Homo sapiens: one gene and its partner. The protein of the gene in region 2 purifies or fractionates together with the protein of the main gene of each other region. This does not show direct contact. Each region holds a gene or a part of one and is shown on either strand. Other genes may lie near its edges.

The links.
Region 1: the proteins of SFTPD (region 2) and DNAJC2 fractionate together in Homo sapiens (co-fractionation; one large-scale study listed by BioGRID). This does not show direct contact.

What each region holds. Positions count from the first base shown.
Region 1 is NC_000007.14:103,313,569-103,317,387, forward strand, and holds part of DNAJC2 (dnaJ homolog subfamily C member 2), read right to left. Parts: intron 3,447-3,819; coding exon 3,262-3,446; intron 2,521-3,261; coding exon 2,420-2,520; intron 2,304-2,419; coding exon 2,196-2,303; intron 1,119-2,195; exon of another isoform or gene 1-1,118. UniProt on the Homo sapiens protein: Acts both as a chaperone in the cytosol and as a chromatin regulator in the nucleus.
Region 2 is NC_000010.11:79,939,078-79,942,896, forward strand, and holds part of SFTPD (pulmonary surfactant-associated protein D precursor), read right to left. Parts: intron 3,803-3,819; coding exon 3,686-3,802; intron 3,428-3,685; coding exon 3,311-3,427; intron 2,994-3,310; coding exon 2,877-2,993; intron 2,438-2,876; coding exon 2,321-2,437; intron 1,712-2,320; coding exon 1,628-1,711; intron 1-1,627.

The DNA of each region.
Region 1 (3,819 bases), on a different chromosome or scaffold from region 2:
GGAAACAAACCTAGCAAAATTAAGCCAAGTGCCCAAGGTACCAGTGCTGGAGAGGCAAGCTGAGATTAGATTGTGTTGTAGTGTGGTGTTCTCTTCGTCACATCTGCTAAAATCTTGGGAGCCGATGCTGAACACTTCCAATAACTGCTATTGTGGTTCTTCAACTAAACCTTGTATATTTCAGAAAACATCTAAGATGTGTGTCAGAAACAAATATGTTTCTTAAGGATGTTAAGTATTACACAGTCCACTTGTGTAGGTAAAAGTAGAATGTTAAGTGGTAGAAAGCTGATTTGGTTAAGTTAATGGACTTCTGGCAATTTAGTTATTTCAGACTATGCAGTGACAACACAGACTAATACTACCAGTAGCCTGACTACTACTAGAAACTGCGGCCTGTGAGATCTGTTAAAAGTTAAGCCTAGAAACCAAAGTTCCTTCCCAATTAAAGAAGGAAAAACAAAACAAAACAAAACAAAACCACCACCTATTCAAAACAAAGCAGAGAATTTGTATAATATTTGATGGTACCTAAGGTGCCTAAGAAGCTTTTTTGAAGGTAGCTTTTAAGTTCTAGGAAGTCTTTTGTTGAATTTCCTTGTATTGGTTTAAAGCCCTAAATACCATAGATTTTATTTCCTCTCTTGGAAAAAAGATGGAAGTGACATGGCAGTATTTCCTGCTGTTCTCCAGTTACTTCACAATACCAAAATAAATTAAACGTACTGTTGCAAAACTCCTATGAGAAATCACTATTCAAAAAATGGTGCCAGCTTGCTGTTTAATGGTACAACTGAAGAGGAAGGAGCCTTCCCATTTCCATAAAAGAGGCAAAGGAGTCATACCCACATAGCACTACTGCCAGTCACTCTTGCCTTCACAGGGTCACCTCTCCTCACAGAAAGCAGACTGGACAAATATCAGGGCCCACCTCCCTCCAACATGGAAACAAGTCCCCCTAAGAAAGAGCTGAGACTAGTGTGCTAATACCTGTTGTATTTTGTGGAGATAAAGGTGCAGGAGAATAAACTCCTTTATAAAGAAGTGTCTTTCAGGTGTTCTGAAACCCTGCCTTGTTACTTACCTTTATTAAAAGAACCGAAATAATGCCTAACTCAGCCAAACAAGTCACTGCTGATTTTTGCAATGATTTTCCTCCCCTATATTAACACTGTAAGTCTCATATCTTTAAGTTGAAATTTTGGGATAATAAGCAAGATTAAAGAATATAGGTAAAACTGGGACTCTTAGAAGAAAGAAACAGCTTATGTATAGTCAAGTCTATTAATCCAAAAGCATCTTTCTGCGATTAGTTTAAGAAAGGATTGGTGGCTCACAAAACATGAAGTGAAAGAACTTTTTCCACATAAACTGCTTTCAAACCTTGTCATAGCAAGAAAAAAATTTATATCACATCCTAAACAAAGACACACGTGATCAAGAGTTTCACAAGTATACCCACCCATATAATGGGTGTAACACTCATTTTCTATTCAACACACTAAATTGACTTCATGACCCAGTGATGGGTCATGATTTGTAACATGAAAAGCATTGGTCTAGAGTAATCACAACACCCAAGATAATATCAAACCCTAACATTTTTTTTTTTTTTGAGTCTTACTATGTTTCCTGGTTTTGAACCCTAACAATTTTTAACATTTTATTTTGAAATAATTTTAGAGGAGTAGAAAGAATCCCTGTATACTCTGCCTACATTCCCCAAATGTGAACATTTTCATATTTGCTAATTATTTTTACCTATATGTACAGACATACTTTGAACCATAAGTTACAGACATGATGCCTCTTTATTCCTTAACACTTCTGTGTTTTTCCTTAAACATAAGGACATTTTCTTATATAATTACAGTACATTTCTCAAAATCAAGCAATTATCCCGATATAACACTATTCTTTAGTCCCAATAATATCCTCTAACACTGTTTTGTAAAACCTGGTAAGCAAAACAAACAGCCCCCTTCTCTAATGGCATCTGAAATGGAACAACTGCAATTCTCCATTTTTAATGGTTAGGTGAAGTAAATCTTTGCCCTGGAAATGTTTGCTTACAGCTTCCAGTCTGCTAAACATTTTATTTCCCTATCATTCTGAACATAGACCCTAAGTCTTGTACGTCCAAGCAGCACAGATACATGGCTAGCATTTTCTACGTTTAGAAAAGCAAAATTTACCTTCAAATCGTTCTGAAGGCGTTGCGTTGTCTGCTTGAGGTACCACTCCATGTTCTTTTTTGAACTTATCAAATGCCTTTTTATTTATGTCATCTTTTTGATGAGGGTCTGAGAAATGAAAAAAATTTAATACTTAACAGATCATCATTTAATCTTTCATTAAATTGCATAAGTTATTTTAAAAATAGGTGTTTAAAGTAACAAATGGACTTCTCAAAACTCACCAAGTTTTTGGAGACTCTTTGCTTTGCCAATAACATCTTTGGCAGTTCTTTTGACTCCAGAGGAAGAATGTATGTTCATGTAATTAGCAATAACTTCCCATCTGATAGGATATATTATACAATAATATGAATAGTAGTAAGGAAAAACAAAATGAAACGACAAAAACCATTAGATTTTTACTGCAGAAAGGTTATAGTATGTACAGAATGAGCTCAGATTGGTGGTCTAATTATGCTGCTACTATAAATTCCTGTTGCCTGGACTACGGTTTTTGCTTTTCATGTGTTTAAATCAACGATAATCTTGGTTTTAAGTCCATACATCTTACAGATTTGGTGTACAAATCAACATAAATAAAACCACTTATTTGTGTATACTGCCAGTTTAATACATTTCTTCAGAAGATCAATCATTCTGAAAACAGCCTCGGTTTCATCTATAGAATTAGGGACGCTGGATCTCTAGGGCTTTCTTGCAGTTAAACTCAAGCTCCAGCTTGAGGTGGGAAAAAACAAAGAGCAAGACTGTAAAAGAAAAACTACAGAAAACCTAATCCCTAGAACAAGCCATGACAGAGTAAGCCAACATAAATCAAGACTTGTCTCATGATCTTCAATTTCCTGAGAAACAAGTATTCTGTCATATGTATATGTGCATGTGTACTGATGCAATGGGTAAGACTGACAGCTTCAAAATGCACCTCACTTTTCACACTTTTCTGCTGTGGCACAGAATTTATCTCTGCAAGTTTCTGTGATAACAAGTGCTGCTATTTGGAGTCTGTCTACATTATCTCCAGGCTCCAGTGTGAGTTGAAGAAAAGTTTCATTAAAACCAGTACCTTGAATTTGTTCCAGCAGGGAACAGATTCACAGCTTTAATTAGTAATTGTAGATCATCTTCTGACCAATTTTTACTTCCATTTCCACCTCCACCAGTTGATTTCTCTGTGTTCTTAGATGCTTGTCGCATACGAGCCTCAGCTTCCTCTTTCTCTTTTCTGATTTGCTCATTTATTTCTTCTATCTGCACAAATATCATAAGTCAGGGACTTAGAAGTATACTGTATTGCTATTCTACACTCTCTTCCTGGCTAGGGCTTTGTGGTCCTCAACTCTCAATGTCATTCTCACTCTGACCCCATACTCCTCTCAGGCCAACCCAAAAAGAAGCACCAGCTTTTCACTCTGGCTTCCAGTCTGCATAGGTCTGCCTGAGGGACCAAGAACTGCCCACAGCCTGCCTGATTTTCCCAGTACTCATGTCATGTGACTTCCATTAGCCTTGGACACTAATTGACAAGTCTGTGGGTCACTGAGTTATTCATCCACAAGGCCATTTCAAACCTCTCTTCAAACTCATATTCACCCTTTCTGCAGACAATCTCATTTATTCTCTA
Region 2 (3,819 bases):
CTTCACAAAAGCTGTTGCGTGGGCAAGGGAAAGTCACTTCCCTTTTCAGGGTTTCCATTTCCTCATCTCTAAAATGAGGGCTCACTTCACAAAAGCATTGCCTGTGTGACATGTCAAGTATCTCTTTTTAGTCTGTCTTTGTGGCTCTTGGGCCCATGCATGGAAATCTTCCGCAAAGGACACTGGAAGCTCCAGAGAAGGCTGTGCCCCTGGCTTTGTTGGGCTGCTCAGAATGCAGGCTGCACCCTGACTCATCGTCCTTAAGATTCTCCATGGGCTCAGGGTGGCACCCAGAGCAGCCCTGAACAAAGTCAGCATAAGAGTTCATGTACCATTACTAAGTTTATGTGCCATGCACATATGTGGGCATGCCTTTGAATATATGTGCATCTACCCAAAGGTACGTGGGAGTATGTAAGGTTCATCTGGATGTGTGTGCATATTTGTGTGTGCTATATAGACAACATATGAGCTCATGTATGTAGATGGAGGTGGAGTGAGTGATGGTGTTTAAGTGCACACACATGCAGTGGGTGCATATGGACATGTTCCTCTGTGTGTTTCTGTCACTGTGCCTCTGAGTGAATTAGAGCATATGCAGAAAGAGATATATACCAAATGCTTGAAACTCTCATTTCAGAGCTTGGGTACTTAGAAGCCAAACCTGTGTTGCACCCAGTCAGCCCTTTTATGCTCTACTACTTCAGAAAACTTTAATCTTTTATTTTTTGGCTCAATGAGATGCGCCTGAACTCAAAGCTGATATCAGGAAAGGCGGAGGAGAGTAGGGGCAGTTGGGCACTGATGTGGAGATTCAAAAAGGCACCAGGCCCTCAGCTGTGTGTCCCTGGAGGCCTCTGACTCTTCAGGATTCCAGGGTTAGGGCAAAGTCTGCTTTAAAATACCTCCAGAGCTGCAGGTAGAGCCCAGCAGTGGCTGGAGCCCAGAAGCAGCCTGCCCCCTATTTGAACCAAGAGCACGTCTAAGGTGAGATATCTGATGGCCACATACCAAGGTCAGGCCCCCACCTGCCTTGTACCCCCAGAGCAGAACCCCAGTCCTAGTTCCCAGAACAGTATCTGGTTTCTGGGCTGCCTTGGGATGTGCAGCAGCATCACTGGGGACTCCCATACCTGGCCCCTCTGAGCTAAGAAATGCAGCCCGTGTTGGGTAGCCCCTTATCTATCAGAGGGACCAGCACAAAGTAGGCAGGAGAGAGGCTCTACTGAATTGCACTGGACTCAGGACAACAATTTATCTCAGGGCACAGGTGGCATTGAGGTTGGTGGGTAGTTCAGGAGCCTGATGGCCTTAACTATGCTACTGCCAGCCTGGTGAGCTGGTGATAGGGGCCACATCCTCCTCCTTTGCCCCCTTGGATCTACTTTGAGCTCCAGGAGCAGGTGGCTGCCCTCTTCTAGCCCCATCCCAGCCTGAGCCCTACCCCCTGCCACAGTCCCAGGTCCAGCCCTACACAGGTCCCAGCTCATTCCCATCCTAGACCCAGGGCAGGCTCTGCCTCAGGTCCAGCCAAAGGTCTAGCCCCAGCCAAAGGCCAAACCAAGGTCAAGATCTAGTGTGGGGCCCAATGCCAGTGCTGGGTCCAGGTTCAGATCCAGGAACTCACCTTTCTTATACTGAGAGAAAGCAGCCTGGAGGTGCTGTACTTGTCCCTGTAAGGCCTCAACCTGCTGCCTCAGAGAAGCAACATCTGGAGGGGAGAAAATGGCCAAGTAAAGACTTGTCCAGAGAGCGAAGGAAGAGCTCAGAGTCTGGGCCCCAAAGGAAGGGTGTCTAGTTTCGGGCACATATTGTGGGGCTGACCCACAGCAAGCCCACATCTACTGACACAGCTGGCCTCTGCTGTGTAAGGATGTCTTATGGTTCTGCTATGAACAAATTGCTGCCTGTACTTCACTGACACTGAACCAGATGACATTGTGACTTTAAAGTCTTGGAATATAATGGCATCTCCATTGGGTGGGTGGGGGGGTTGCTGGGCAGGAATACACACTCATGTGTTTCCTATCCACTGGGTTTTTAATGCCCAAAACTGTCCTATGAATTGGGAAGGCAGTTGTAGTTTTCCCGATAGTCAGATGGAGAAGCTGCCCAGGTTGCTTTCCCATGAGTACTAAGTGGCTAAGACCAGAGCCCCATGCTCCTGCCTTCCAGCCTGTCCGCCTTTCCTGAGTTCCACCCACCAGCTGCCATTAATGGGGCACACATCCCAGAGCCCCTCCTCTGGGATGAGGAGGGCTTCCTCTCTGCCCACCCATGCCCCAGCGGGGCTTCCCTGGGCCAGGAGCTGCTACCTTACCTGGAAGCCCACTTTCTCCCTTTGCTCCTTTGTCTCCAGGAATGCCTTTGTCCCCCTTCAATCCCGGGGGTCCCCTGGCACCTGGACTTCCCTGGGGACCCATGGCTCCAGCAGACCCTGGGGTAAAAGAAGAACTGGGTGAGCTATGTACTCATTTTATTTTTTTTGTTTTTAGCATTTTTACCTTCCCATACATGGACTAACTATCCTTATTGCCCAGAAATAGACAGATGGTCCCCAGTACCCAGCCATGCAGCTCCCTGTACACTGACTGTCCCTGTCACCCAGCAATCAACCCCGCTGTGGAAAACTGCCCCGCCACCCAACAACTAACCTTCCCTGTATACAGACTTCTCCATTGCTTGCGCCTCACTCTCCCTAGATAGGAACAGTCCCCAGAGCCCCCTCATGCACCCTTCTTGGATACAGATTCTCTCCATGTTCCAGCGATACCACCTCTGCCTTTGTGGGTGGTGGAGGGGGTGTAGGCATTGACAGCTCCAAGCAGGCACAGGAGAACTGGACCCAGCCCAGCCCAGCTCTTTCCACTGCTCACCTGCTGCCCCTGTGTTTCCAGGGACTCCACGCTCACCAGGGACACCTCGCTCTCCCTTAGGGCCTGCGAGGCCTCTTGCCCCTGCCGAGCCCTGCATGCCTGGGGCACCTACTTCTCCTGAAGAAGGAACACACAGGAACAAACACAGCTAAGAGCGCGTTCAGCAGGTGTGGTTTTGTTAGCAATGGAGCTTTTTGCCCGCAACTTTAGGGTCAGAGAGAGAAGTGGGGAGACTCTCCTTGCTTTCTGGGGCTCCTCTGTGGAGGGTGAGAGGAAAATATTGCAGTTGTGGGGATTGGGAGGGTGCATGGCAAGCCTTTGCAGCATCAAGGGTCTGGGCTCTCCCTGGCACTCTGAGCACGCCTCAGGTCATATCATGGACCCTTGTCCTTCCTCCTTTCCCTTCTCAGACTGGCCACAGACCAGCCACCTACCTTTGGGCCCAGCTTCTCCTTTTGGGCCTGGCTTGCCCTGAGGTCCTATGTTCCCCTGCTTCCCCAGGGGACCTTCTCTTCCAGCTGGACCAGGCACACCGGGAGGTCCTGGAGGTCCTGAGCAAAAGCACCAGCCCGGTCAGTAACAATGAATCCTCTTGGCAGGAGGAGTGTGTAGTAAGGTGAGGGTAATAACAGAGGTAAGGGAGGCAGCATTGTTGTCCTCCCAACAGCAGGTCCCATCTGTCCTGAAATGACCCAGTGCCACCTTCAGACAACCTTCTTCCTGGGATGGGCTCTGTGCGTGCCCACTGGCATATCCTTGCAGCTGCACCACCACCTGGAAACACCTGAAGTCGACACCCAGTTGCTCACCACTTGGCCCAGTGTCTCCCTTTGGTCCAGGTTCTCCAACAGAGCCATTGTCCCCTTTGGGCCCAACTGGGCCAGCTTGTCCAGGCATCCCTGCTTGCCCTGCAGCTCCTGGCAAACCTGTAGCAGCAGAAGAA